Regions from separate parts of the Homo sapiens genome. Here all the other regions are linked to region 1. Evidence: fine-mapped expression QTL. A gene starts in region 1. Each other region holds a variant in brackets. All regions are shown on one strand. Distances are from middle to middle. Region 1 holds the start of OPRL1 (opioid related nociceptin receptor 1). Region 2 holds the start of MYT1 (myelin transcription factor 1). Region 3 holds the start of NPBWR2 (neuropeptides B and W receptor 2). Region 4 has its middle 11 kb from the start of MYT1. Region 5 overlaps TPD52L2 (TPD52 like 2). Region 6 has its middle 3.4 kb from the start of TCEA2.

Region 1 (5,000 bases):
GCAGCCTGGACCCCAGGATTCTGTGTCTTGGGGATTGACTGAGTGCCTAGAATGAGTTCATCTACTGGGAGAATCACATATTATTTCACCATTTCTCTGAGACTCCATTTCTTTATCTTTAAAATAAGGGTCTTGGTGCAGTACCCCACAGCAGCAAGTGCTCCAAAGGGGATGGGTCACTCTGCATCAGACAGGCAAGAGGGAAGAGGGGCAGAGACAGGCACAGCAGACCCAGCACCCAGAGAAGGCCAGCAAGACAGTGACCTCAGTGACTGCACCAGGGTCAGGCCGGCACTCGGGCCCTTTGATCCCCATGAAAAGGCGCAGGGGGTGCTGGATGTGCAAAGGAGGCTGGGGAATGGGGCCTGGAGGGACGCCTGCCTGTAGAAAGCTCTATGGGAAGGAAGGCATGTGGTCCAAAGCCCAATATATTGAGGGCTGTCAGGGCGCAGAGGGTCCTGGGTTCAAATCCCAGCTCCGCCATCAACTGCCCAGCTCACCTGGCCCCACCCATGGACTTCAGGATGCTGTGTGCCGAGAGGCAGAAGCCAGGGCGGTGGAGAGCAGGCCCAAGGGGCCAGAGGAGACGGGGGAATGACTGGGGGGTTGTAGAGTGACCCGAGGGGGCAGGGAGGGCACTGACCTTCACCCCCTGCCAGCTGCCCACAGCTGCATTTTCCCACAGCAGAGACAACAGGCCGGCTCAGCGGGGTCAGCCTGGTTGTGTGTGGCCTGGGCCAGGTGCTGGCCCATCTTCGTTGAGCTTCCCTGACCTCACCTGTGCCCACCGCTCAGGAGTGTTATGTGGGCTGAATAAGTAGCAGCCTGCCTCTTGTCCCTGTGGGCTTCCTGGCCCCTGCCTTTCCTTGCCTGGCCTGACAACATGGCAGTCACAGGGTTCTGGGTACAGCTTCGAGAGGCAGCCTGTCTGTCCTCCAGGGCCCTCTGACCTCTGACCTCCCCCTTCGGGCCCCCGCCCCCGCTCAGCAGCGCAATACCCTCCCCTCCTCAGCCCTCCCCCCTCTCACCCAGGCCTTCCCTGCCTGCTCCCCACAACTCACTCTGCGCCCCCCAGCATAAGATCCAGGCTGATCTATGTTGCTGGCTTCTGGTCCTACTGCCTGGCCCACAGGGGCACCCAGATACTGATACTTGTCCGTTGAATGAGGAATACAAGTAGAATCTCCAGCTGCCTTTGCACCCCTCAGAGTTCTGTGAAGGTGTAAGGTGTGCACCTGACCTGTGCAACTGGAAGGCATTTTATGAACAGATCCCGACACTGGGAACTATCCGGGTGGAGTGCTTGTGCTGGGGAGGACAGGAGCTGCACACAGCCGGGCCAGGGGAGGGGCGGGGGGCACAGATGCTCTGCAGACACTTCCAGAGCAGGGTCAGGGCCACCCTGACACAGGGCCAAAGCATGCTGCGATGAGAAGCCTAACCCACGTCTGTACCGAGTCATAAAGGATGAGAAGAGTCGGCCAAAGGGACAGGGCGTTCGTGGCAAAGGGGACAGTGTGGCCTTAAGCTTTAGGACATCTTGGGACACACGGGTCAGCAGGGACTCTGCCAGGCCCCACAGGAGACATTCGGCATGACTCCGGATGCAAGAACCCGCACCCCCAGTTCTCCCCAGCCCCGCAGCACAGGAATCTCCCCCTTCCTTGGGAACCCCCCACAGCACAGACAGGCGGCTCTTAACCCAGTTTTACAGACGCGGCTCACGGAGGCGAGGGGTGGGCCGGGCTGGCGTACCCGCCGATCGGTCCTTTGCAGCAGCCTCCTCTTTCCCAAGCTGGGCAAGCAGCATATGGGGCCCAGCTCTCGTGCCTCCACTGTCGTGGAAGTCCCACACGGATGGCAAAGCAGGAACGGCCCCGCCGAGCAGAGTCGGGGGCCACGGCCACACCCCCATCTACTACCGTGCGGCTCCGTCCGCCCGGGAGCCAGGGCTCCACTATGAGCACCTCGACTCTCCGGGCCACCCCCAGGCGACTGTGGGGGCCGACGCGCGGGCGGGGCGGGTGGGGTGCGGAGCCGGCCGAGCGCGGGGCGGGGCGCGGCGGGCGGGGCGGGCCCGGCGACCGCCGGCGCGAGGAAGTCCCGGCCCCTGGCTTTGGGGAAGTGCCGCCGAGGCGCCTGCGCACTGCGCCCCCGCGCCCCCTCCCCGACTGTCGGGCCGGACCTTGGAGCGCGCGGGCCGGCGGCGGCGCGAGTGGCTCGGGAGCGCGGCTGGTGAGTGCGCGCGCGCAGCGCCGGGGACAGCGGCCCTGCCCCTCCCGGCCCGGGCCCGGGGACCGTGCTGGGCGGGAGCTTCGGGAGCCGGCGCACGGGACTCGAACCCCAAGGGCTCCCGCCGCCAGGTCCACGTGGACCCTGGGCCGCAGTGGAAGTGGAGCCCGCCCCCCGCGCGTGGGGGAGGGGGCGCCGCAGCCGGGTTCCCCTTTTTCTGGAGCTCAAAGCCTGGGGAAGTGATTGCTCAAAGGTGGGGGCCGGAAGAACCCAGGTTTCCGCGTCTCCCTCCCCCTCTCAGCCCGGTGAGGAGGGGCCGGGGCGGGACACCCTGTCCGCCCCCGCCCCCACCCCGCTGGATCTGGCAGCCACTCAGCCCTTCGAGCTGTAGGGGAGGCGCTGCGCCCCCGGCCCCAGCCGATCGGGGGCTCCTGGCGCTAGCCTCCCTCCAGAGCGCCGCAGGAGTCCCTCCTGCCGTCTGACTTGAGTCCCTGCTGCTGCAGTGCACGCCCCTTCGGCAGCCAGGGTGGGGCCCAGACCCAACCTGGCCCCTCCTGCCCCCACCCCGCCTTTGGGTCGCTGGTGAGTAGGGAGCTTTGAGGTAGGGGTGGGGGCGTCAGAGGCTGAAGAAAGAGGCACCTGGAGGAGAACACAGGCTTCTCCAGACTGGACCCTAACAGCAGAGAGAGGAGCGTGGTGGGTGGGCCACCACCACCATTTCAGAGGTGGGGAGAGCTGGCCTTCCCTGGAGGGGCCAGGCCAGGGCTCGCCCACCAGCCAGATGTGGAGGGTGGCAGATGGGAAAGGCCCTGGGTAGGAGCTAAGGACTGAGAATGGAGCCCCTCTTCAACCCCCCTCCCAAAGGTTATGACATTTTTTTCTGGGATTGTCACATTTTCTTATTCTTTTTTTGGACTGGGCAGGCTCTGGGACGTTCTTTTTCCTTCTGTGGAGCAAAGCGGCAGCCACTCCCAAGGGATCCTCTATCCCCAGAGAGCAGACGTGCCGCCTATCCAGCCTATCCCATCCCAGACTTGGGGGCCAAAGCCTGGGAGGCTGGGGAAGGGGGTCCCCAATGCCAGGTTGACAAGCAGGAGGACCCTAGTTGAGACTCTGTATCCCCCAGGAGAGACGGGGGGAGGGTAGCCTGGGGACATGGGTTGCCCCAGTTGACCTGAGAAGGGTACAGGAAGCCAGGTCCAGGGACAGGTGACCAGGTCCAGGGCCTGCAACTGGGAAAGAAGGGGCTGGCTCCCTGCTCTGCAGCAAATGCAGCCCCTAGCACCCCGGCCCTGCACCCCTAAACACGTCCCCTCCTCCAGTTCAGAGCTGGGGTGGAGATGGTAGCCCAGGGGGACAGTCTCAGGGGTGCTAGAGTGTGGGGGAGGACCCTGGGTGGGGACAGAGAGGAGGAAGAACTGCTGCCTGGGGAAGCCACAGACAGCCCCGTCTGGGTACAGCTACCAAACCTCAGGTTGCCACGCCCCTTCCTTTCCCTAGAAACTTGACCCCTGAAAGAAAGCCCAGCTGCAGGGCTACTTTCGGTCTCCTCATCTACTTGCTAGGAGCCCGTGGGACCCCCAGTCTCAGAGGAAACTGGGCCGGTGGTGAGGGGCCAAGGTCCCAGGGGATGCTGCACCTGCCCCAGACTTGGGCCAGGGCAGTGGCCTCTGCATGCCCAGGCCTCGGGGGTATTGGGGGCCCTAAGAGTGCAGAACTCCAGCACTGTCTCTTCTGAGGGCCATTCACACACCGTCCCAGGAGGCCAAGAGAAGCCAACCAGCCAGAAACAAGCATTCAAAGGCCACGAGCTAGGGGAGGCGTGGCGGGGGGATGAAGATTGAGAAAATAAAGTAGAATCAAGTTGTGAGCTTCCTGGCCAGGGAGGGTGGCGGCACATGAGGAGGGTGGCGGATGTGCACGGAGGCCCCTCCCTGCCCTGGGCAGAAGTGGGCGCAGGTGTTCACAACTGCCTCCGGGGCACTGATTGGCCCCCCTGTACCATCGCCCAAGGAGACTTGGGATTCGAAGTGGCATCTTAGGTGGCATGAGGGCCACTCACAGCTTTGGCGCTCCTGGTGCACCTCCCCTGCAGACGGTGCAACCAAATGCTGGGAGGGACATGCACCACACCACACCCCCCTCAGGGACTCCGAGGCTTCGACTGGGGAGCAGGGTGCCCCCCACCCCTGCCACCCCCACTTCCCTGGCTGGCGCACCCTGTGGTAGGGCCTTGGTTCCACAGCAGTTTCACAGCCTAGAGGCAGTGGGCAAGGAGGGAGGGAAGTCTTGGGTGGGAGGTAGCAGGACCAAAGAACCATGTTTGGGGGGCATGTCCCTCCTCACCGGGGCCCTGCCCCCCTTCCCACACCCTCAGCAAGTCCAGCCTGAGTCCCACTTAAATCCTCACTGCTGCAGGTCTAGCCTGCTGCCCCTGGCTGAGACCTCTGGGACCCACAGACAGACCTGGACTCTTGGTGGGAAGCCACTCTGCCCACTCCCCACCCCAGACACCCTAGAAGCCAGTCTGGCCACCACCCGCACGCACCAGTTGGTAGCCCCAGACTCTCGGGGCCCCTTTGGGAGGGGCTGGGAGCCGGAAACCAAGAAAGAGGAACCCAGGCTTCCGGCTTCCCAGGGAGTGAGCGGATGGGGGTGTCTCGGAACCTCCAGTGGGGGCCTCATCTGGGGCCCAGCCTGGGAGGAGGGGCCAGAAGCTGCTGCAGCTCCCTCCTCAATGATCCTGGACCCCCTCCCAGCCCTGCTGT
Region 2 (5,000 bases), 87 kb before region 1:
CGCTTTGACAAGCTAGCTCAGCGAGGCGCACACCGGGATTGGGGACGCGCCTCGGGTCTGTGGCTCTGGCTCACTGGGAGGCCACCCCAGGCACCTGCTGCTGTCAGTTTGCGGTCCGAGAGTCTCAGGGACCTTCTAGGGCCTTCTAAAGCAGGCCTTGGTGCACCATGGAGCATCCAAACTCCCACTCTCCTCCCACTCAGGCAGGACAGGTCAGCCACTGGCAGCTCTGTGGGTCCCTGAGGGAGACATGGAGGGTCCCCCAGGACCAGGTGAGAGGCTCCAACCGCCTTGACCCAGGGCCCCCTCTTCTCACGCTCCTCCTCTGATGTGTGGATTGCAGGCAGCAAAATGGAAAAAAAGAAGAGGACCCAGATGGCTTCTGCCCCAGCCCTCAGACCAGTGTTGAACACGATGGAGGTGTGAAGCCAGGCGTGAGAGAGAGGTGGGGCCAGCAGGCTCATCTGTCAGCAGCTCAGGCCATATGGTGCCTCCACCTTTCCTCCCGAGCATCCAGATCCCCAGTGCTCACCCCCACCTTGCCTGGCCACCCTGACTCCTGCAGAGCGCTGCAGCCTACTTCCTGAGGACCATCCAACCTGCACCCTCCTGGCACAGGCCGTGCTCCCAGGCCACAGTCCCAAATAAACCCCAAGGCACAGGGAACATATCCAATCAACTCCAAGCAACCCCAGGGCAAACCACACACTCAGTTGCCAGAGCACAAAGTCACTCTCTTGAAGGTTGGGGCTGCTGAGTGGAGGCTTCCGGTGCTGCAGGACAAGGGGTGGCAGGAGGACCACAGACACCCACAGCTGTGTCGACATCCTCTCTCCTCTGCAAGGCCTGGACTCCAATCCTGGCCAAGGCAGATGTACTCAGCCAGGGCAGATTAAAGCACGCTGAGTTACTTTCGTTCCCGATTAAAATAACATTGCATTTTTAAGTGCAAATTGTAAAATAAAAAAAAGGATGAAGTGATGGGTGAAACCAATCTTCCCACAAGGAACGCTCCTAATGGCATTAACCCTGGGGAGAAAAGACTCCACACTTGTATCTGGTTAGTTCCAGTAACACTGAAGAGAAACAGGAAGACATTTTCAAACTACACTTTCCACTTGCAAGTATCCATTAATCTCTTCTCTCTGAAGCTGGCTCCGTGGAAGCCTGAGATCAAAAACATTTTAATTCCGGTGAAATTCCTCTTGCTCATTTTTGTTTTGAGTTTTTTAAAGTGATGTTTGGGGAAATTTGGTCTGAAAGACAGAAAAATGCCGGGAACCTCAAGAGGCCGTGAAAGCACATTCCACCCCCCAGGCCTCCAGCAGACACTCCGGGCTGGGCAGTGGGCTCCCCAGTGGGGCTGTCCTGGAGCGGGGATGGGTCCCGCAGTCCCCAAAGAGCAGGAAGCCCACGGGGGAGCAGCACGGCAGCCACTGCTCTCTTCCCTTCTGGGAAACACGGCGTTTCTCGGTCTGACTAATCTAATGATGCTGGTTCCCAAAGACCATTTTCCTGTAAACTCACACCACAACATTCCTGTTAAAATTACATCTGTAGACAACTAACTTCTGGTTTATTCATGAGGGAGTTCACACGGAAAATGCAGAGGGGGAGGATCTAAGATGAGGAAGATGGGAGAGAGGAAGAAAGAGAAGAGCCCCCCCAGCCCCTGCGGGCACCCTGCTCCACTCTCCCGCCCAGGTTCCTACAAGAGAACAGGCAACAAAAGAGGGGCTCTGAGATGTGTCTTCCAGCATTGGGACAGGCAGAGCATCCACTCTTCAAGATGCCTGAGTAACATGAAAGTCTGGCTGACCGTCCAGTACCCTGCCTGCTCGCAGATCAGGTGACCGCCAGCAGCCCCCACCCACCCCACAGCTAACCTCCTGACCCCTGTTCCACCAGCTGGGTCAGTTCTCTACCTCCTCATCTACTCCAGGCCCGGTGCTGACCAAAGTGTTCTGGTTGTTCCCGGTCTCATCCCCACCCTGAGCCCCGACAGAGGGACTGGGTGGACACAAGCCTTGCTCAGTCTTTTCCAAAGTAGACGCACCTTTTGCACTGAGTCCGTCCAGGAAGAGCTCAGCCCCCACCAGCCCGCCCACTGCCACCGAGCAGCGGCTGGAGGCCCCGGGTTTCTCTCTGGCACTTTGTCAGTCTTCAGGAACCTCTCCTGCTCTCTCTGCACAGTACTGGGTTGTGCAAACTGGCATTCCAAGCGGCCCAGACATCACCAGACTGAGCAGCACCAGGAAGACAGTTAGTCAGGCTCTGACCCCTGTCTCCCCAGTGCAGAGTGGTGTGGGTCTCCTCTACCCACCACACCACCACAAATGTCATTGTCTGCACATTCAGTGACCCCAGGCCAGAGAGGAAGGGAGTGAGTCTCTGAGCAGCACCAGGGAGAGCGCCCACCACATCCACAGCAGGGACAGGCCAAGCTCCAGCCACCATCCAGGCTGCCGTTGGTCAGCTGCCAGAGCTGCCCAGCATGCACCCCCGTGGCCGCATACCCTCTGCCAGCCTCTCCCTGACATCTCCGGCACTAACAGAGCTTCCAAGTAGAGGCTGCTGCAACCCCCAGACCAGAGCAACTTTGCATCCCACATGGCTAGAAGGGGTCATCTCAGAGAGTGTTTCCCCACTCATGCACCAGGGGCATTCAAGGGAGTAGGTGACCACTGCCTTTGCCAGAATCTTCCAAGAGGGGCCAGAGCATTAGCTCTGAACAACTGAGGCTACCTCCAGATCTGTGGGCAATGGCTGAGGGTCACAAAAACCCTCGAGTGGCACTTTGGACAGAAGCAGCCCCCCTGCCTCGGGTCTCTGAAGAGGGCTACCAGGCCCTCTTCAGGGATTCATG[G/C]CCCAAGGAGGTCAGAGCCGAGGCTGTTCCAGAGCAGAAAGGCCTCTTTGTCCAACTCTCTGTGGCTCCTGCTCAAGCTCCTGGATCAGCAAGTACCCCTGGGAAGTTCGGCAAACGTCCAGGTGCCCAGGGGGTCGGGGGGACCCTGTAGGAGTCTCAGTCTCTACGGGACAGAAGAATCCATAAGACTGCCTCCTTCTCTTTGAAAACAAACTGCCCTCTAAGCCCTGACCCAGCCTCCTCTGCACAAGGAACAGCTACCGAGGGAGACAGGGCAGGGTCCTGCCTCTACTGATAGCAGCACCCTGGCTGGTACCACAGGACTCCAATCCCTGCTCTCTTACTCTTTTGTTTACCGTTAATTAACAGGGCCATATGGAAGGAGGCGATAATCACAGCCAAGGACCAATGGGAGGGGAGCCCGGGGTGGCAGGGAGGCTGGGGGCCGAGGGGAGCCTCCCTCAGTCAGCCCTGTAGAGGATACAGCACCCCCACTCCCCAGGCCAGAGTGAGGCCAGGACAGGCTCTGCTGGCACCTCAGAGGAGACAGAGGCAGAGCATACCCCTCAGCACCGAGTGGGCCCCCCCAGGTCTGCCCCACATCCCTCCCACCTTTTGTGCACTCAGCCACTGGCGTTAGAGGTGTCCTCAGTTTTCTGTGATTTAAAAGAAAAAAAAAAACTGCAAGGGCAAAATTCTCCACCGACCTCTCCCAAAAGGATAATTATAATCATCGCTGCCATTATCATCATCGTGACAGAGTCCATGCCCAGGACCAAACCCACCTGCAGCCACGGAACCCCCCGCACCACCGCAAATGTTTGGTTTCCAAAATTAAACACCCAACTTTACCAGCCAATGGTGTCCACTGATTCAAAGGTGATGCTGAGACAAGCAAAGCCCTTGGTGACTCAGGAGGAGCAGTGAGAACCCACCACTCCAACACAAAGCCACCAGCACTTGTTTATTTTCCTGGTTTATAGAGAAGAAAGTGAATTCAATAGACAGAACCAAAGTCCACGGCCCCAGAACTACAGACAATGGCATTAGGGTGTTCAACTTCTTAGCTAACCCTGATTTTTAGTTTTAAATACAAAAATCCAGTTACACTACCACCATAAACAACCACACTCCACAGCTGCACGGACACGTAGCGAAAAAAGGGGCTGAGAGGAGCGGCCGATATTTACTTCTGCACATCTATCCCACAGACGCATGCACCCTAGATATTGATCCTTAAGTTGAGAAATGCATGACATGCAGACAAAACGTTCACGTGAGCACCTCTCCTCAGTACCTTGGGTGGGGGTCACACATGACACACCCCAGACTCTGAGACCCTGCTTCAGAGAGGTCTTCTGCTTAAGCGGCCAGTGCTCTCCCCAGGTACGGGGCTGCTGGGTCCCACGGCCACAGACATATCCGTTGTTCCTCTTCCAGAAATGCGCATAAAGTTTCTGGTTTTGATATGCGCTCCCCTTCCCCTAATGTCTCCTCTGTCAGACGCACAACATGTCCCCTGGAATCTCAGAGGAGCATGAACAACAGAGAGACAGGAGAAAAACAGCACACGGCAGGCCAGGGAGGAGAAGAAAGCCCCCGTCCTCCAGAGCAGTTTCAAAAAGCCATCCTCAGACCTGCTTTTCCTGCAAACAGAGCCTTCATCTTAGAAATTAACTCTGCCCGCGCGCCCTCTCCCTGTCTCTGTCCAAGAGGAAAAGCCAAGCGTTGGGTATCTGCCTTTGTCAGAAAGAACGTAACGTTGACTTACCTTTCCCCACAGCTATTGTCTGTCCTCTTTCAAAATGACATCACGGAAAGCAATCATGAAATTTACATGGGGGGTGCAGGGTGGACTGGGGGAGGAGAGGGAAGGCAGCTGCCTCCCGTACAGCGGTCACATGTGGGGAAGCCTGCGTGCGGGTTTCAATTAAATATCTTCTCCCCTTAGTGTGCGAACTCCTAAGCCAGCTAAAGGCGACGTCTCATTTACTTAATGACTGCTCTCATTAGCAGCGGTGGCACGGGCTGGCGGAGGAGGCTCCTTTGTAAATACGCTACCCATGAACCCTTGGGGCTCCAATATATCTGTTTACTCTCTGAGGTGAAATAAATTTACAGTATAGCATCAGAA
Region 3 (5,000 bases), 26 kb before region 1:
TCCCTTCCTGACACACAGGCGCACACGTGCCTCAGCCGCCCACTGAGGAGTCTGCCTGGGTAAGTGAATGCTGAGGAGACCCTGGGACAGCCGACTGCAGGCGCTACTGCAGCTCAGGGGAAGGTGGGGCCTGCCTTCCGGGCTCCACGTCAGCAAGGGGGATCCGCCTCCCTCCCTCACCAGCATCAGCACTGACACCAGGCTGGGAACCTCGCAGCCGGGGCTGAGGCAGCCAGCAGGGCAGGTCTTGAAACTCCTGAAACCTCAGCTGGAGGTCTGTCAGTGAGGACCACACCTCGCCCTCCATCCCTGCGACTGCCTGTACTGGCCAAAACCAGGAACACACCAAGGCTACCAACTTCTGGACTCGAAGCACTGGACAGGTCAGTGGAGAGAAGAGTAGCTGGACCAGCAGGGTCTGCAGCATCTCTCGGGAGGGTGTGAGGGAGGGTGCAGACTCCAAGACCCCTGAGGGAAGGACCTTCAGATTCAAGGGAGCCAGAGATGAGCTTGGGAGGTGTGTTTCCAAAGGGACCGCTTGATTCTACGCAGCCCGTGCATCTGCGGGTTGCTGGGGCAGGGACGGATCCACATCTCTTCCCAGGAGGGTGGCCAGCAGCTGCTCTCTGCGGGAGGAGGGAACTGATCTGCTGAAGTCTCACCAGGAAGAGGCGGGAGGAGGCCCCCACACACCCCACCAGGCTCCCTCTGGCCCCATGTCCTTGACCTGGCAAAGTGGCCGCAGTCTCTGCCAGAGAACCTGGAGTGGCTGTGCCCTAACAGACGGCCGGATCTCAAAGTCTCTGGTTGTTTTTCTTTCCTAGAATCCAGCCCAAGGAGGCCCCCAACCAGATACCCAACTCCAAGGCACCTCCCACCTGCCCAGGGCGCAAATCGTCAACGGTCCCAGCTACAATGCAGGCCGCTGGGCACCCAGAGCCCCTTGACAGCAGGGGCTCCTTCTCCCTCCCCACGATGGGTGCCAACGTCTCTCAGGACAATGGCACTGGCCACAATGCCACCTTCTCCGAGCCACTGCCGTTCCTCTATGTGCTCCTGCCCGCCGTGTACTCCGGGATCTGTGCTGTGGGGCTGACTGGCAACACGGCCGTCATCCTTGTAATCCTAAGGGCGCCCAAGATGAAGACGGTGACCAACGTGTTCATCCTGAACCTGGCCGTCGCCGACGGGCTCTTCACGCTGGTACTGCCCGTCAACATCGCGGAGCACCTGCTGCAGTACTGGCCCTTCGGGGAGCTGCTCTGCAAGCTGGTGCTGGCCGTCGACCACTACAACATCTTCTCCAGCATCTACTTCCTAGCCGTGATGAGCGTGGACCGATACCTGGTGGTGCTGGCCACCGTGAGGTCCCGCCACATGCCCTGGCGCACCTACCGGGGGGCGAAGGTCGCCAGCCTGTGTGTCTGGCTGGGCGTCACGGTCCTGGTTCTGCCCTTCTTCTCTTTCGCTGGCGTCTACAGCAACGAGCTGCAGGTCCCAAGCTGTGGGCTGAGCTTCCCGTGGCCCGAGCAGGTCTGGTTCAAGGCCAGCCGTGTCTACACGTTGGTCCTGGGCTTCGTGCTGCCCGTGTGCACCATCTGTGTGCTCTACACAGACCTCCTGCGCAGGCTGCGGGCCGTGCGGCTCCGCTCTGGAGCCAAGGCTCTAGGCAAGGCCAGGCGGAAGGTGACCGTCCTGGTCCTCGTCGTGCTGGCCGTGTGCCTCCTCTGCTGGACGCCCTTCCACCTGGCCTCTGTCGTGGCCCTGACCACGGACCTGCCCCAGACCCCACTGGTCATCAGTATGTCCTACGTCATCACCAGCCTCAGCTACGCCAACTCGTGCCTGAACCCCTTCCTCTACGCCTTTCTAGATGACAACTTCCGGAAGAACTTCCGCAGCATATTGCGGTGCTGAAGGGCCTGGGCACCATCACCCCCATCATCATGCCCATCATCACCCCCCATCATCATCACGCCCATCATCATCATGCCCACACCCCCATCAGGCCCACCCCCCCCCACCCCCACCACCACCCCCACCATCACCCCCACCACCACCCCCATCATCACGCCCATCATCATGCCCACCCCCATCACATCCACCATCACGCCCACCCCCATCACCCCCACCCCCACCATCACGCCCACCATCACCCCCACCCCCACCCCCACCCCCATCATCACGCCCACCCCCCCCACCACCCCCACCATCACCCCCATCATCACGCCCACCCCCACCCAGTTCCGGCTGTCTCTTTCAGGGGACGCCCGGCCTGTTCACATCCCAGTGCTGTCCTCTCCACGCAAGGAGACACAGACCCTCACACGCTGGCCACCAGACCTACAGACAGCCGTGGGCATATACCTCCCATGTCTCTGCTTCCTGGACAGCCCCTGGGTGGACAGCAGCAGGGATCCAGGTCCTGGCAGAGGCCCCCACACAGCAAGCATCCCGGGCCCACTTACCCACGAGAGACAGACAGATGGACAAGCCCCTTGGAAGGCTCTGGGACTCAGGATCCCTAATGACAGTGGTCGGGAGGGGAGGGAACCTGAACTGTGATCTTGACCTGGGCCACGTTACATAGTCTCTCCCCAAGATGGGGCCGGG[G/A]GGTGGTAAGTGCGGGCACCTCAGGCAGCAGCGATGCTGTGTTGCTGCAAAGGCGGACACCTGCACCGCATGAGACCCAGAAATCCACTCTCGTGGCCTGAAGCCCAAGTGGAGTTCCAGCAGGAGGCCCAGCCCCGCCGTGCCCATGTGCCATGGCCTGTGCTGCTGTGTTCCCCCTGCTGTGGCCGACGGTCCTTGCCATGGCCTGTACCCGCCCTGCTGTGTCCGACAGTCCTCTCCATGGCCTGTGCTCCCCTGTGCCCCCCTGCTGTGTCCGACGGTCCTCTCCATGGCCTGTGCTCCCCTGTACCCCCCTGCTGTGGCCGACAGTCCTCACCATGGCCTGTGCTCCCCTGTGCCCCCCTGCTGTGGCCGACAGTCCTCACCATGGCCTGTGCTCCCCTATACTCCCCTGCTGTGGCCGACGGTCCTCTCCATGGCCTGTGCTCCCCTGTACCCCCCTGCTGTGTCTGACGGTCCTCTCCATGGCCTGTGCTCCCCTATACTCCCCTGCTGTGGCCGACGGTCCTCTCCATGGCCTGTGCTCCCCTGCTGTGGCCGACAGTCCTCACCATGGCCTGTGCTCCCCTGTGCCCCCCTGCTGTGTCTGACGGTCCTCTCCATGGCCTGTGCTCCCCTGTACCCCCCTGCTGTGGCCGACGGTCCTCGCCATGGCCTGTACACCCCTGCTGTGGCCGATGCTCCTCTCATACTTTACTAGAGGCTACAGGGCCCTTTTGCCAGGACCTCTGGGCCACCACAGCCTAGGGACCATCCATCACTTGGACAGGCTGGCACCTGGAACTCTCTCTCCCGGGGTGTGGCCAGGGGCTTGTAATCAGCCAGCAGGAGCTGCATGCTGAAACTCTGGTGGGGGCAGGGTGAGGGGTGGTAATGAAATGCAGGCAGTTCAGAGACCGCTGACTGTCAGGTGGGAGGGGCCAGGGGTTGGTCCCAGGTGTGCTGTGGCCAGGCCCCGACTCTTGGCCCCATGGCTCTCAGCTGGTTCCATGCCTGGCATTCCAGCCTGGCAGTGAGGTGTGAGTGTTCTGGGTTGGTTTCAGTCCTCATGACCCAGAGCTCTGATCAATCTGTCCAGCCGGCACACAGGACCCACCATTCACCGCCCCACGAGGTGTCCCAGGGTGTATGCCCACCTCCACCCATCCACCAAATACTCCAGCGTTCCAGCCCACTCGGCTCAGGCCTGCAGCAGTGCCCCTCCTCCGTGCTAGCCAGCCAAACACGCCACGGCCATCTCCATCCACTTATCCTCCCTGACAACATTGTATTAGATATCTGTTGCTGAATAACAAATTTCTCCAAAACTTAGCCGCTTAAGACAACTTCTACTATTTCACTTCTGTGGTTCAAGAATTAAAGTGGCTTTTTGGGTGGTTCTGGCTCAGGGTCTCTCCTGAGGTTGCAGTCAGGACCTTGGCCCAGGCCCTGACCCTCTGAAGGCTGGGCAGGGGCTGGGGTATCTTCTTCTGAGAAGTCTTCCTTCCATGGCTATGGGCAGGAGGCCTCTGCTCCTCAACACATGGATGCTTCAGGGGCTGAGTGTCCTCGAAACATGGCACTGGGTCCCCCAGAGCCAGCGACCCAGGGAGGAGCCAGCGACCCAGGGAGGAGCCAGCGACCCAGGGGGGAGCCAAGAGGAAGCCTCAATACATTTGAGGCCAAGATTCCGAAGCCACTTGCCTTCCCTTCTACTACATTCTGTGCATTGGAAGCAAGTCACATGTCCAGCCCACACTCGGGGGCTGTAGACGGTTTATTTTTCTTTTGCTTCAATTTTTTTTTTTTTAATTGAGAAGGGATCTCACTCTGCTGCCCAGGCTGGAGTGCTGTGGTGGGGTCACGGCTCACTGCAGCTTCGACTTCCTGAGCTCAAGCAATCCCCCCACATCAGGCTCTGGAGTAGCTGGGACTACATGCGTGCGCCACCACGCCAGGCAAATTTTTCTTTTTTTTGAAAGACGGGGTCTCACTATGTTGCCCAGGCTGGTCTCAAACTCCTGGGCTCAAGTGATCCTCCTGCCTCAGCCTCCCAAAGTGCTGGGATTACAGGCATGAGCCCAGTCTGTGGGCAATTTTTAAGCCACCACCAACACCGACACCGCAGGAAGAACAAGCTGTCCCTGGATTTGTTTCCTGGCTGCGCTGCAGTCACACCTCGCAAAGCAGCAGCACGGCAGCCTGACTGCGCTCTGCACGCTGTTACGGTGCCCCGGAGCCCCTTGAGGAGACAAGTGAGACTGTGTTTCCCAGACACCCGCTCCAAGCCCGCGGCAGAGCCAGGTGTGAGGCGTAATGAGCAAGTGAACAACGAGGGGCGGGCAGGAGAGGCCCGGGCGTGGGAATGTGCGCAAGGCAGGACTGAG
Region 4 (5,000 bases), 74 kb before region 1:
GTCCAGGGACCAGGGTCAAGGCGATTAAACACAGAGACGGACACAGACAGGGGCAGGAAAGGAGACAAAGGATGGAGAGGGAGAGGTGGCCCACAGGCAGAGAGGTGAGGCAGAAACCAGGCCGGCTCAGACACACAGATGGACAGAGAGGTGAGGAACACAGAGAAAGAGAGGAGGACACAGACTGGCCGACCACCAGGGTGCCCAGGAACCGGCTCGGTGACAGCAGGAAAAGGGAGCAGCCGGTGGGGCACCCTGACTGTCCCTGTCATCACCTTCCACCCTGCAGGGGTCACACCACATCAGCATGTGCATGTGCGTGTGTGTGCCTGAGTGTGTGCACAGACACGTGTGAGGACAGAGGGCCCAGCGCCTTGCCCTGCTCCAGGCTCTGTTTAAATGGCTTTGGAATTGTGCTCCCAGAACAGATGGCCTCGGAGATAAAGCTACCGGGTGCCTGGACAGAGAGCGAGGCTGCGGGCGGTTGCCATGGCAGGCTGGACTGGTGAAGATCGCTCATTAGCAGACAGAGCAGGGCTCACAAATGTCAAGATGGGCTCATGGGGAGGGGCACCCCCAGCAGAGCCCCGGGAGGGAAAGTCTCTGGACTGAATGTCCGGGCCCTGCATTCCCAAGAATGGAGCTTGGTGGAACCGGTAGGCACTGGCCAGCTGCTGACTGATGTCCAAGGATGACAGCCACGCTGGCCTGGCCATGTTGGGAGAAACACCCCTCCAGTCTCTGTCCCAAGATGCCCAAGCTGGAGCCTGAGACACACTGACCCTGGGATGGTTCCAGCCATGCCCCACATGGGAGATCAAGAGCCAGTTCGAGGCCAACACCACACTCTGGGATGACAGGATGGCTTCCTGAGTGAGGCAGTCCCCATCCTCACATGCAGCACTCTGGGGAGGGGTGGGAGCCGACCACAGGGGCTCTACAGCCTGTGCCCAAGGCCCTCCCATCCCAGCTGGGAGCCCAGAGAGGGAAGGGGCAGCTGGAGCCCTGGACAGGGTCTAGGAGACAGATCCCAGAGCGAGATCCCCCATCATTCCAACAAGCACACCCTGAGCACCTCCATGGCCAAACCCCACTGAGGAAGCCAGGTTGGATGTCCCCACTGCCACTCAAGCTATGGGTCCAGCCCCTGAGGAGGAGGAACGAGGATGCTCCTATTGGTGCCGGGCACAGGGCAGCTTCATCCTTTAGTCCCCTGAGGGTCCACAATGTTGTTCCCAACTTGTAGGTGGGCTCAGAAGGGTCGAGGGCCCGCAGCTCCCAGACAAAGCTGGGACTGACGCCCTGGACCGTCTGGCACCAAAGGCTGGATCTGAGCCAAAGAAGGGCCTCACTGGTGCCTTCCTCAAATGAGAGCTCAGGAGGGACAGACCCAGGGCCAGAGGGGTCCCCTGCTAGGCTTCAAAGGGAGGCAGAGCCAGGACAGGAGGTTTCTGCCCTGGAGTGAGCAGGAGGCATGCGGAGGTCCAGGAGCAGAGCCGGGGCACGCGGCGTGGGGTCCAGGAGCAGAGCCAGGGCACACGGCGTGGGGTCCAGGAGCAGAGCCGGGGCACGCGGCGTGGGGTCCAGGAGCAGAGCCGGGGCACACAGTGTTGGGGCAGCTGGGATGGCACAGGGGACCCTGGGCAGGTGCCTAAAGGGCACACCCACCAGAACAACAGGGAACACGGGCCATGGAGCCTGGAAGGCCTGGGACTGCCCAACAAGCCCATGTGCCTGCACCCGACCAGGAGCTCTGCCTAGAGCCCCAGAACCTTCCCCAGGACCCCAGCCTAATATACCCTCCAGATAACCCCACCTTCCCAGGCCAGAGCAGCGTGGGCCCTCCAAATCCAAGAGCCCCGGGAGGCCCTTCCATCCACCACACACAACAGACCCTACACACACCCCACAAATGCACAGACACACAGACATACAGACATACACACCATATACACACCACACACACATACACACATACCACATACACACAACAGACCCCACACACACACCCCACACATGCAGGCACACACACAGACATACACACCATATAGACACCACACACACACACAGACACACACAAACACACACACACCACATACCTCAGACCCCACAGACCCACAGACACACACACCACACACAGACATACACACAATATACACACCACACACACACACAGACACACACATACACACACCACATACATCAAACAGACCCCACAGACCCACAGACACACACACACACCACACACAGACATACACACCATATACATACCACACACACACAGACACACAAATACACGCACACCTCAAACACACCACACACATACACACAACACAAACACACATACACACCATATACACATCACACGCATATATACAGACACACAAACACACTACATAAACACACACACTGCACATACACACATGCAGTGTTTGTGCAGTGGA[T/C]CTGCAGAGACCCGCCGGGATGACACCGCCTCCTCTGCCAGCACACACAGGCCATCAGTTCCTCCTCATATGAGGCCCCAAGCCCCGCACAGCCCAGTTATGACCAGGAACTAAGGCTCAGACAGCGACTAAACCGAGCAAGGTGTGAGCCCCAAGGAGGCGGCAGGGGAGCGCAGCCGTGTTCTGAGTGGCCATTGTCCCACCACCTGTGCCAAGAGCCACTGGCCCTCTCGGGCGTGGGTTTGCTGGCCCTGCCCCAACACTTCAGCTGCAAGGGCACCTGTATGCAAATGCCACCAAGGGCACAGGGGGAGGGGGCTGCCCAGGCCAGAGCATGCAGGGTGCTGGGAGAAAGGCAGAGGAGGTGACCTGGGGTGACAGCTGTGTGCTTGGGGTTGGGAGGACACAGGTCCCCCCCCCACCCCAAGGGATAAGCAAGATCATGAGAGGAGGGGTGTGAGCCCCACCCCGAGCCTGGGAGCCCGAGGCACCGGCTCTAAAGAAGGGGCTGTCAGGCTGGGTATGGTGGCTCACGCCTGTAATCGCAGCACTTTGGGAGGCCAAGGCGGGCGGATCACAAGGTCAGGAGTTCAAGACCATCCTGGCAAACATGGTGAAACCCTGTATCTACTAATAATATAAAAACTAGGACATGGCATTGTGCATCTGTAGTCCCAGCTACTCGGGAGGCTGAGGCAGGAGAATTGCTTGAACCCGGGAGGCAGAGGCTGCAGTGAGCCGAGATCACACCACTGCATTCAAGCCTGGGCAACAGAGTGAAATTCGATCTCAAAAAAAAAAAAAGGAAAAAGAAGATGAGGCTGTCCCACCTGAGGAACAGGGTGCTTGGAGCACGGGCCTGCCTGGGCCCAGGCACATCAGTCTCTGTATGAAGCAGGTGCGCTGACCCCTCCTCTCATCCAGCTGCAAAGTCTGCTTGGAAACCCTGCCTTGGACCCTCTGAGTCTGCAGGAAGCCGTCCCGCCTGGCAGTCCCGGCAGGAGGAAGTACCCTTACACACTGGGATGATTCCAGTGAATCATCACCGTGCCTCACAGGAAGACTGAATTTACTTGTTTTACAGGATCAAAGAAATGATAGATCTTTTCTGAGGGCCATGACAGCATGGCTGAGTCAGGAACGGGGCCTCAGTGGGGCCACGTCACTGGTACACAAAGTCCCAGGCCCCGACCTGCAGCAGCCAACACAGACTTGGAGGCTCAAAGACCAGTAGATGTCCGACAGCACCACATGAAGAACCGACGGGCAAGAGCTTCCAACAGAGACCCACGTGACAGGCAATGTGTGCACACCAGGTACACAGCGGACCAAACACACACACACAAGCCCTGAGACCACACAAAGCCCGTGGGTCAGATTCAAGGTAGCTGAGACCCAGCTGGACCACCGAGATGTGTACCCATCCTGCACCCTCGCTGCAGCCACAAGCTCGTCTTGGGCTCCCCTCAACCTACCTGACTGATGAGGACCAGAAACGCGGGAACATTCTGCCACCGGTTTCCAAATCACAGACGATCCCAGACATTCCACTGGCTCCAAGTTAATGAAGCAGCTTGCAAACTCCTGCTACTCCGCCGTCTCCCTTTGTGCAAATGCGTTCATCAGCCCCATGCTTGCAAAAAGCTGATCTCTTCTAGTGCCACACAAAAGCCAGATGCAAATGGAAACCTGCAGGAGGGAGACTTGTCTGTAATTTGTGCTTTTAGGTTGGAATTGCCACCTCTGTTTCTGACTTCAGTGCCTCTGACCCGGGCCTGGAAAGATGAGGAGTGGGAACCTCCTGGCAGCCAAGAGCATCCTGTGGACAAAGGAGACAGGGGAACGCAGGAGCCAAACGCACACCCACACTTTGTCCTGAGGTTGGAGGGCGGCTGGGGAGGGCTGTGTACCTCTGGAAGATACAAAGGATACACAGCCGATGTTCTCTTCTGAACCCATCCTCTGCCCAGGACAAGTTGACCTGGGCACTCCTGATGCCACCACTGAGAACCTTGAGGACCTCGTGCTCCTCTGCGCCCCGCTCCCTGCCAGGAGCCCCCCAGGCCTCCTCCACACAGATACTCCTGTGTTTCAACACCCACAACGAGGCTGGTCCTGACTGACCTCCTCCAAGTCCCACTCATCTCAGGACCTTTGGATGGCCCTGACACAGCACTCAGCACCCTTGACTTTGCCAGAAAGCTCAAAGAGGTGAGCCGTCTCTTCCACTGGGATATAAGCTCCCCGAGAGTTCCTGGCACACTGACATTGCTCCTTAAATACCTGAATGGTCCAGCTAGTCTCCTGAGTTCTCCACAGGGAAGACCAAGTCACATCCTGTTCAGGGCTCTCCAACACCACCCATGAAGGCCTGATCCCCACTCTTCTTGGGGCCTAGGCCCAGATGTCTAGACTGAGCTTTTCTCATCAAGCACCAGCCTCACGACCCTGTCCTTGCCTCTGTGTACCCAGCCTGACCTAGTCCCTGCAGTTCCTGTACTGACACCCTCCCCTTCCCTTAGCCAGACCCCTAGGTGTGCACCTCTTCTCTGAGAG
Region 5 (5,000 bases), 190 kb after region 1:
TTACCTTTATGGTCCCAACTCGGTCCTCAAACGACTTGAAGGTCGCAGAGTTCCTTTAAAGAGAGAGGGAAGAGTGTCGGTGTCAAGAGGAGAGGGTTGTGCTGCTCTCCTAACTCGGAAGGGCCTCAGGGTTAGGGCCAGCCTCCAAAGGGTCCCTAACAACATCCCAAGATCTCATGGCAAAACTGTGAGACAGCCAGGTCATTCCGGAGACTCCCCAGGTCAAAAGTGAGGTCGGCCATGCCCAACAACCACAGGGACAGGTCCAGACGTCACACAAGGCAACTGGAAACCCCTTGACTGTGCAGCTGGGGAGATGTCGGCCCCTCTCTGTCATACCCTACAGGGACATCCCGGGCTCTCGTACTGAGGTTATGAAAAGTCTGTGCAGTTGGGGGGCTGTCGGCCCCTCTCTGCTGTCCCCTACAGGGACACCCCGGGCTCTCGTACTGAGGTTATGAAAAGTCTGCGCAGTTGGGGGGCTGTCGGCCCCTCTCTGCTGTCCCCTACAGGGATACCCCGGGCTCTCGTACTGAGGTTATGAAAAGTCTGTGCAGTTGGGGGGCTGTCGGCCCCTCTCTGCTATCCCCTACAGGGACACCCTGGGCTCTCGTACTGAGGTTATGAAAAGTCTGCGCAGTTGGGGGGCTGTCGGCCCCTCTCTGCTGTCCCCTACAGGGATACCCCGGGCTCTCGTATTGAGGTTATGAAAAGTCTGTGCAGTTGGGGGGCTGTCGGCCCCTCTCTGCTATCCCCTACAGGGACACCCTGGGCTCTCGTACTGAGGTTATGAAAAGTCTGCGCAGTTGGGGGGCTGTCGGCCCCTCTCTGCTGTCCCCTACAGGGACACCCTGGGCTCTCGTACTGAAGTTATGAAAAGTCTGTGCAGTTCTTCATGCACATCTCTCAGAGAAGCAAACGGAAGACCAAGGACACTTCTGGGACAGCAGAGTGATAAGGAGACAAGAGGAGAAAGCAGGCCAGCTCCATCCCACTCAGTCCCTCCCACACAAACAGATACCCCTCCCAGGCCCGGGGACTCTAGAGGCCAGCACGTCTGCGACACCCAGCCAGAGTCCCCACAAGGAGAACAGGGCTCTCCTGAGAATCAGGGCGGTGCCTGACGGCGCAGGCACAGAATAGGGACCACAGTTCTGGGCTCTCCTGAGAATCAGGGCAGTGCCTCACGGCACAGGCACAGAATCCTGAGAATCAGGGTGGTGCCTGACAGGCACAGAATAAGGACCACAGCTCTGGGTGTTTCCGTGAAGGCTGAGACCGTGAAGTGTCCTGAGTGACAGCCCACCAGGGCAAGTGCCAGGATCTGTGTGCGAGCCCCTCGAACCCCACCCCACCCACTGCAGGCAGCCAGGGTCAGGACTTGGAAAGGACACGGCCCAGTTTGACACAAGGATCTCCTCTGGAGGCTGCAGGTGAAGAGCCTGACCCCCTACCAGCTCTTCCTCGTCAGCCTAGAGGGGGTTTTTACCGGCCCTTAGTCATCAGAGGTTGCCAAGGGAATGGAGTCCTCAATTAATCCAGGAATATGGGAAGGGCAAGGTGTAACCGGCGGGAGCTGCCCCAACCCCCACCAGAGACACCCGGCTCTGGAGCCGCAGCGAGCAGGCATACATTACCTCATGGCTGGCATACTTATTGAGTGGCGGATGGAGTAGCTGCTGCTTGGAAGCATGGCAGAAGCAGAGAAGGAAGCAAGAGTTAACACCAAGATCCACACACAACCCCAACTTGGCAGGGATGGGCAGAGCTGGGATTCCCCCACTCCCAGCAGTTGGAGCGAGCTGCCTGCCCCTCCACACAATGCCCCCGAAGGAAACTCGACCCCAGGGTCCTCCCTTGGCCTCATGGGGGGCACCCCAAGTTGCCCAGCGCATAGCACTGGGAGG[G/A]GGGAGAGCACTGCCATAGGAAGCTGTGAGGAGACCAGGCTTGGGCTTTTGAAAAGTATTTGGTACAAACAGCCTTCAGAAGTCAAGTAAGGACCTTTTGGCAAAAGAGAAACCACCAAGTCAAGTAAAAACACAAGAAATCACAGATTGTTCTGGGCCTGGCTCTAGACCTCCCGGTTCCAGCAGAAGGGCACGTGCTGGCGGCGCCCCGGCTTGGCCTAGAGGAGCTTGCTCTGGTCTGCAGGAGGGCCCTTTGGGAGGCACACCTATGGGCTCTCGGGTAGTAAACAAGACAAAACTCCATCTGAAGGAAAACAAGGAAACAGGACAGATGTTGAACAGGAAGGTGGTGAGAGTCGGCACAGCCCTCCCACGTGAAAAGGCTCCTTTGAGGGCCCGGCGCAGTGGCTCACGCCTGTAATCCCAGCACTTTGGGAGGCCAAGGCGGGTGGATCACGAGGTCAGGAGATCGAGACCATGCTGGCCAACATGGTGAAACCCCGTCTCTACTAAAAATACAAAAATTAGCCAGGCGTGGTGGCTCATGCCTGTAATCCCAGCTACTCAGGAGCCTGAGGCAGGAGAACCGCTTGAACCAGGGAGCTGGAGGTTGCAGTGAGCCGAGATCACACCACTGTGCTCCAGCCTGGTGATAGAGCGAGACTCCAACAAAAAAAAGAAAAAAAAGGCCGGGCGCGGTGGCTCACGCTTGTAATCCCAGCACTTTGGGAGGCCGAGGCGGGCGGATCACGAGGTCGGGAGATCGAGACCACGGTGAAACCCCGTCTCTACTAAAAATACAAAAAATTAGCCGGGCGTGGCGGCGGGCGCCTGTAGTCCCAGCTACTCGGAGAGGCTGAGGCAGGAGAATGGCGTGAACCCGGGAGGCGGAGCTTGCAGTGAGCCGAGATCGCGCCACGGCACTCCAACCTGGGCGACAGAGCAAGACTCCGTCTAAAAAAAAAAAAAAGCTCCTTTTCAGGAGTAAACTCAGGCCTGGACGCCAGGCCAGTTATTCACAGACCCGGCAGCAGGCGGTCTGTGAGCCTGAAGGGAAGCACGAGGAGGGGACACAGAAGGGCCGGGGGGTTCCGGGGGGCCTCTGCGTCGATCCCACGCTGCTGCTTTGTTCCCTGAGATGCAGCAACCACCTGGCTGGCACTGCTGTCCTGGAAGGGGTGATCCCACTTTCACTGCCCTCTACTAGCACAGCCGCCCAAGGGCCCTGCCGGAGTCCACCCTGCCCCAATTCAGAGAAAAGTCTTCCACAGGTGTGTCCAGGCTCAGCCTTACCTAAAGGAGTGTGAAAATGGATGAGCCCTGGAAGGTGGCAGCAGGAGAGAAGAGGAAACGAAGTGTAAGCAAGGGAGGCCAGCACCCACTCACAGCCCTCCTCGGGGAGCCCCAGGGGAGGCCCCCTGCTCGTGCTCAGTCAGGCCCAGCAGGGGAAGACCCTCCAGGACGGCTCCTCCAGTCCGCACACCACCGGGGACAGCAGCACTGTCTCCAGTCTCCTCAAGTCCTGACTCAACAGGAGGCTCTCGCAAGATCATGACTAGCAACTGCTCAGCCTCACGGCTGTGCCCAAGAGGCCCCTGGGTCCACGCCCTGTCCACGCCTTATGCCCCAAGGCACACCTGTTTGGAGAAGCCACAGCACCTGGAGCACAACCAGCCCCATCCAGCAGCGCAAAGGTGTGAAATGTGCCACAGCATGACAGCTGGGCTTGGCCAGCTCCACAGAACGAGAGCGGCCCGTGTTCCCCAAATCACGTCAGCTGAGGGAGCACACGCACCGTGGGAGGATGTGGGACACCCTTGGCGCCGAGCATTTCTGCTCTGCGCTCCATCCGTGCCCACAGACGCCAACCTGGAAACCTGTGTGTCCAAGGGCAGCTGCTGCCACTCACTGCAGCCAGGCCCACTCTGACATGGAGGGAGCCACTGAAGAACTGAGAAACACTCAACTCGCCCGAGGTCCTGAGAGGGCCGATGCCTCATCTGAGACCACGGAGTCAGACGGTGACCTGACCCTGCTGTAAACCCCCACTCTGACCTGAATCCAGTTCCCTTCCTCCCATCCCCATCACCCATGCCCCAGGGCACACCAAAGGCCTCACAGACCGGGGCTGCCCTGGGACAGGCCCATCATGGACACGGGCGTTGGGCAGCTGTCCAGAGGGGCTTCCGCCCAAGAGTTAGCAGGGGTCCGCCGGGGTTCATCCAGCCCTAAACTCATGACATAAACCTCCCAGAACCCAATTTTCACTTTCAGGAAGTAGTGAGCTCTCAACCTCAGTCTCTAACTCGAGGTGAATGGGCCCAGACCTCAGAAACCACCTGTGACTGCTTGGGGAGATGATGGGGATACACCAGGGGCTCCAGACGTCAGAGTTCCCACCACCACTACAAACATAAATGGAGGAGCAAGCAGGGCAAGACACACCAGCAAACAGGACCCTCCACGGGCACCGTGAACACGGCCAGCCAACTGGAGCGAGCTGGCTCGTCCCAGGTCAGCCTGAGGCCCCGCTCCCCCAGCTGGCCCCATGTACCAGGGCACACGTGCAAACACGTGGCACAGTGTGGCTGGGCACACTGACAGCTGTGCCAGCGTCACTGCAACAGGAACTCTGCTCACTGCCAGCCATGCCCTGAGGCTACACGACACGGGTCAGCTGCCAACCCCAGGACTGAGCAGAGAGCGAAAGCCTTTCTCCCCATCAGAGAAGGAGGAGCAGACAGAGAACCAGGACCGTGTCCCTGTGCTTCCAGAGAAAAACAGGCCATACAAACAAATGCCCAGATCAAAACCCTAGGACTGGCTTGTGCACGGCTATTCCAATCAGTGCCAAGGGCTCCACGTGCCCCTTGGATTTCCACCACAATGGTCTGAACAAACTCAAAAGGGAGTGTGGACACTAAGAGTGGGCAAACGCCTCCTGATGGCCGGCATAATTTAGGCACAACAAACACCTGTTACTTCCTGAAGATGCTCTGTGGTGAGACCAGCATTTTCGGGAAGAAAACAGCCCTGCGAGGCTGAGTTCAGCTGAAACTCAGGGGGTCCCTCCTGGGTCCAAAGCTCAGCAGT
Region 6 (5,000 bases), 20 kb after region 1:
GGCCAGCATCCCCACCACTGCCTGGCAGCTCCCCAGTAATGCAGATGCTGGGTGGTTTCCTGGAGAGGGCACAATCCTGGGGGAGGGTGTGGATCAAGGAGCCTGTAGTCATTCAAGTTCAGGCCAACGAACTATGAGGCCAGGTGGCAGGTGGAATGGGCTGAGCATTTCTTGGGCTGTCTGTGGCACTAATCACATATAACTGAGCTTCCCCGCAGCCAAAATGAAAAGGAAAATATGGTCAGTTAAGAGACTCATCTTAGCCGGGCAATAGTGGCTCATGCCTGTAATCCCAGCGCTTTGGGAGGCCCAGGCGGGTGGATCACCTGAGGTCAGGAGTTCGAGACCAGCCTGGCCAATATGGTGAAACCCCGTCTCTACAAAGAATACAAAAACTAGCCAGGTGTGGTGCCGGGCACCTGTAATCTCAGCTACTTGGGAGGCTAAGGCAGGAGAATTGCTGGAACCCGGAAGGCGGAGGTTGCAGTGAGCCAAGATAGCACCATTGCACTCCAGCCCTGGCCAACAACAGCGAGACTCCGTCTCAAAAGAAAAAAAAAGAGAGAGAGAGACTCATCTTGGTTGGGCACAGTAGCTCACCCCTGTAATCCCACCACTTTGGGAGGCTGAGGTGGGCGGATTATCTGAGGTCAGGAGTTCCAGACCAGCCTGGCCAACATGGTGAAACCCTGTCTCTGCTAGAAATACAAAAATTAGACCGGGCATGGTGGCTCATGCCTGTAATCCCAGCACTTTGGGAGGCCAAGGCAGACGGATCACGAGGTCAGGAGATCGAGACCATACTGGCTAACACGGTGAAACCCCATCTCTACTAAAAATACAAAAAATTAGCCGGGCGTGGTGGCGGACGCCTGTAGTCCCAGCTACTCCGCAGGCTGAGGCAGAAGAATGGCATGAACCCAGGAGGCGGAGCTTGCAGTGAGCGGCGATCATGCCACTGCACTCCAGCCTGGGCAACAGAGCAAGACTCCATCTCAAAAACAAACAACAACAAAAAAAAAATTAGCCGGGCGTGGTGGCACATGCCTGTAATCCCAGCTACTTGTGAGGCTGAGGCAGGAGAATCACTTGAACCCAGGAGGCGGAGGTTGCAGTGAGCCCAGATTGTGCCACTGCACTCCAGCCTGGGTGACAGAGTGAGACTGTCTCCAAAAAAAAAAAAAAAAAAAAAAAGACTCAGGCTGGGCGCGGTGGCTCATGCTTGTAATCCTAGCACTTTGGGAGGTGGACTGCCTGAGCTCAGGAGTTTGAGACCAGCCTGGGCAACAGGGTGAAACCCCGTCTCTACTAAAATACAAAAAAACAAAAAAAAATTAGCCGGGCATGGCGGCATGCGCCTGTAGTCCCAACTACTCAGGAGGCTGAGGCAGGAGAATCGCTTGAATCCGGGAGGCGGAGCTGGCAGTGAGCCGAGATCATGCCACTGCACTCCAGCCTGGCAACAGAGTGAGACTCGTCGCAAAAAAAAAAAGCTCAATCATAGGGAAAAAGCATAGAATTCCTTGTGAGGAGCAAAGCCTTTCTAAGACAGAGGCCCCGCGATATTATATTATTATTATTATTAATAGATGAACACGGTTTCCATACTGACTGATTCTGCCCCTCACAGTGAGCTGGGGACATAGCTTCCAGCCTAGACCATCCAAGCAAGTCCTCGTGGTCAGAATCCCATGGTTTGGGCATATATGAAGACTTGAAGGGTCCAGCCTCATCAGAGGCACGAGGGGAGGCTAGAGCCACCCAGCCTTCAACCACTGTCTCAATGGCTGACAGCCAGACCAAGGAGCTGGTCAGGGTCCTGTAGAAGCCACACTGGAACTGCCCTTGTGCAGGAACCCCAGAAAGTTTGGCTTCGGAGGTCCGGGCGGCCAGGGTTTCAAAGCTGGTTCCCACCGTCCACAAAGACACTGGCCACATCCATGGAGCCTGCCTGGCCAGACACATAGGCTTCTCCAACGGCCGAGTGTGAGTTGATTTGAAGACCACCGAAAGGAAGCCAGCCCTCAAGCTGGGGGTGGGGGGGAGACCTCCAAGTATCAGGACTGCAGATCCTGAGATGCTGGTAAGGGCTGCAGCACAGAGAGGCCCCTCCTGGGCAGGAGGTGCAGCCCAGACAGCACAGAGGAGAACTAACCCCAGAGAGCTGCAAGTTCCTAAGAGTGGAGGTGCAAAGGAGAGAGGGTCAACGTCCCAGAAGCATCAAGGAGCTGCCAGAGGAGGCTGTGCAGTTGTGCATAC[G/A]CCGCAGTCCCAGTTGAAGTGTTGGTGGGGCGGGGTCTGGGGTATCAGCACGGACCTCTGGAGCAAGTCACTATCAAGGAGCCAGCAGTGAGGCCGCTCCCCACCTGATTTCTCCCTGGGATGGACAAGCGCAAGGTTCTGGGGAAGGAGTGCACACAGACGCCCCCGGAAAACCAGACTAGAGACCCAGCCTTGACCCTCCCCAGGCCGGCCCAACCAGTGGAGGGACTTTGCATGAGGGATGCTTTTAAATATCTGGTTCATCTGAATGTTTTCAGCCACAAAGATCCCCTAGCACGGTAACTCTTAAAGCATTACCTAGGGAGCTGGGAGCTGGTCGAGAACAAAGACGACTGCCCCCTTGCACTCCCCGCCCCCACCAGGGGCTGGGGCCCTGGGGTCTCTGTCCTCTGTGATACCTGTGTGCAGATCAGAAGTACAGGCCACAGGCCAGCCAGGATGGATAAGGAACAAGGGGTGCCCAGAGGAAGGGAGAGGCACAAGAAGGGCTGGGAGTTTCTTTTCAGAGGTGCAGAGAGTGTCCCAGAGTTGGGAGGGAGAGGGATGTGGTCTGGAGTGTGTATTGAAGCCTCAACAACCTTACCAAGCTGCAGGGAGGGACAGAACCCACTGCAGGACAGGGCCTATAGAGACGATGGGGTGGGACAGAGACATACTGGGCCTGGGAGCTGGTGGGGGGCGGTCGGGCAAGATGGGAGGGAACAGTGCGAGGCGTCTCAACAATCCAGGGGGTCAGAGACCCAGAGACCAAACCCCTGACAGAAAATAAACTGGTGGGAAGAAACCATCATCTCCTTTTTTTTTTTTTTTTTTTTTTGAGACAGAGTTTCACTCTTGTTGCCCAGGCTGGAGTGCAGTGGCACGATCTTGGCTCACTGCAACCTCCGCATCCCAGGTTCAAGCAATTCTCTTGTCTCAGCCTCCCAAGTAGCTGGGATTACAGGCATGCGCCACCACACCCGGCTAATATGTTTGTATTTTTAGTAGAGACGAGGTTACATCATATTGGTGAGGCTAGTCTCAAACTCCTGACCTCAGGTGATCCACCCGCCTCGGCCTCCCAAAGTGCTGGGATTACAGGTGTGAGCCACCGTGCCCGGCCCATCATCTCCTTTATACCGACCTCTAGCAGAAAGGTGTCGTTCGTTCAGTTATGAACGAGGCCATGAACCAAATCTGGTCAGCTGGGCCCGTGGCTGACCCGGCACAGATGGGAACTGCCTCGCACCCCCACACTCGCTGCTGCTGGGACTGCAGAGGCTGTTCAGTGAGTCACATCTTGTTCAGCAGATTGGTAAAGAAGCACTTGGGTTTTGATATCACACTTTAAGAAAATATTTGCATAACTGTGTGTTGGTAGAACTGGCTGCCTTTATGACCCCGTGAATTCCACCTTGTGCTCTGTGTAGGAGGGGCCTCAACTAGGACTCCAGGAACTGGGACTCGGCCCTTGCTGAGCCTGAGTGGAGGTCCCACTCTGGGCCCTGTTTCCTCCTCCATGAGATGCCAGGTGGTCTTCTACGTCCTGGGGCCCTGGGCATGGCCACACAAGACAGAGCTCGTGAGGAGCCTGACATGTCTCAGTGGGTCCCAGTGGAGGCCCACAGAGGCTGCAGACGGGGAGGTCAAGATGCTGTGGCGTCTTAAGGACAACGGCTGGCAGGTCGGGGATCCCTCAGGAAGGGGTGTCAGCCGTGGGCCCAGCCTACGGGGCTGCATTAGGGCACGTGGGGAGCCTGGTCGGACAGGTGTGGATGGGGTCACTGGTGGCCTGGTTCATGGCAGGGGCAGGTGATGGAGAGAAAGGAGCGGACGGGACAGGCAGGGAAGGGGGTTAGCAGAAGAGGTCGGGTGCCTCTGACCTGCGGGCCGCAGCCACTCCGCTATGACAGGAGCCCCGAACCCTGACATGCTCTAGTCCTGCGTGGAAGCAACTACTGCAGGCGGAGAGGTGTAGGCCCATCCTGGTGATCAGGGAACCTGCAATCCGGTGGGATGGTCCCGCCCCCGGGCAGAGGCAGGTGACTGGCCCCAGAGCCTGTGAGGAACAGTGGCCTCTAGGTGGCAGGAGTGAGCCACGGACGGGTGGGCCTCACTTCACCACCACCCCACCCCCAAGCCCCAGGGAGGTCCAGGTGGTTCCCAGCAAGAGCCACAGCTGCCCCCCAGGACTGTGAAGTGGCCGAGGTGAGAAGGTGGCCAGTCCTAGAGAGTGGCCTCGTTTGTGAGGGCTGTGGCGGCGACCAACCCTGAAACTCCCCAGTGCCCCTGGTCCCGGGTCCCTCAGGAGCTCTGGACTTCTGGGACCTTGCTCAGAGCATTCTCGCCCCCCAGCAGACCCCTCCTGGAGCTTACCGACCTCCGGACTTCCTCCTCCACGGAGCTTCCCCAGCAAGCTGCTCAGGGCCGCCAGACGCTCCCGGGCCCTCAGAATTTGCACCCAGAGGCTGACAGCATCAGAACCATCGATTCTCCTGTGGGGCCTCGCCGCAGGGTGCTGCTCCAGCCCCTACTCCCGCCCTCGGCAGCTGAAGAACTTTCCCTCCCCTGTGCGCAGGCACACATGCACACGCACACACGCAGGCGGGAGCCTCGCACACACGGGGAGCCACTGCGGACTGGTTGGCGAGTGTCTGTCTCTCACCCGGCCCAGAGGCAAGGCCTGGATCCCTCAGCCGCGTTAGGGCTACGGTTAATGTTCGGTTTCGGTTAAACCCTGA

What was found.
Region 2: its variant is fine-mapped to the expression of OPRL1 in whole blood (TOPMed, PIP 0.97).
Region 3: its variant is fine-mapped to the expression of OPRL1 in whole blood (TOPMed, PIP above 0.99).
Region 4: its variant is fine-mapped to the expression of OPRL1 in whole blood (TOPMed, PIP above 0.99).
Region 5: its variant is fine-mapped to the expression of OPRL1 in whole blood (TOPMed, PIP 0.99).
Region 6: its variant is fine-mapped to the expression of OPRL1 in whole blood (TOPMed, PIP 0.90).

What each region holds. Positions count from the first base shown.
Region 1 is chr20:64,077,108-64,082,107 of GRCh38, reverse strand. OPRL1 (opioid related nociceptin receptor 1) reads right to left here and starts at 2,026. Exons shown (of 5, transcript NM_182647.4): 1 at 1,756-2,026. It overlaps RGS19 (regulator of G protein signaling 19), which reads left to right and starts at 2,590. Exons shown (of 6, transcript NM_005873.3): 1 at 2,590-2,814. RefSeq lists silencers at 1,442-1,615, 2,009-2,688.
Region 2 is chr20:64,164,377-64,169,376 of GRCh38, reverse strand. MYT1 (myelin transcription factor 1) reads right to left here and starts at 4,925. Exons shown (of 23, transcript NM_004535.3): 1 at 4,638-4,925. The variant G/C (reference allele first, on the strand shown) is at 2,867.
Region 3 is chr20:64,102,747-64,107,746 of GRCh38, reverse strand. It overlaps NPBWR2 (neuropeptides B and W receptor 2), which reads left to right and starts at 182. Exons shown (of 2, transcript NM_005286.4): 1 at 182-383; 2 at 825-3,945. The coding sequence starts at 916. The coding sequence ends at 1,917. RefSeq lists an enhancer at 134-634. The variant G/A (reference allele first, on the strand shown) is at 2,614.
Region 4 is chr20:64,150,830-64,155,829 of GRCh38, reverse strand. No RefSeq gene overlaps it. Among named protein-coding and RNA genes, the nearest start is that of MYT1, 11 kb to the left of the region's middle. RefSeq lists enhancers at 3,035-4,234, 4,235-4,914. The variant T/C (reference allele first, on the strand shown) is at 2,445.
Region 5 is chr20:63,884,243-63,889,242 of GRCh38, reverse strand. It overlaps TPD52L2 (TPD52 like 2), which reads right to left. Exons shown (of 7, transcript NM_003288.4): 6 at 5-53. Among named protein-coding and RNA genes, the nearest start is that of DNAJC5, 8.4 kb to the left of the region's middle. RefSeq lists a silencer at 2,841-3,011. The variant G/A (reference allele first, on the strand shown) is at 1,908.
Region 6 is chr20:64,057,291-64,062,290 of GRCh38, reverse strand. It overlaps a transcript of TCEA2 not described here. Among named protein-coding and RNA genes, the nearest start is that of TCEA2, 3.4 kb to the left of the region's middle. RefSeq lists enhancers at 3,834-4,521, 4,522-5,000. The variant G/A (reference allele first, on the strand shown) is at 2,260.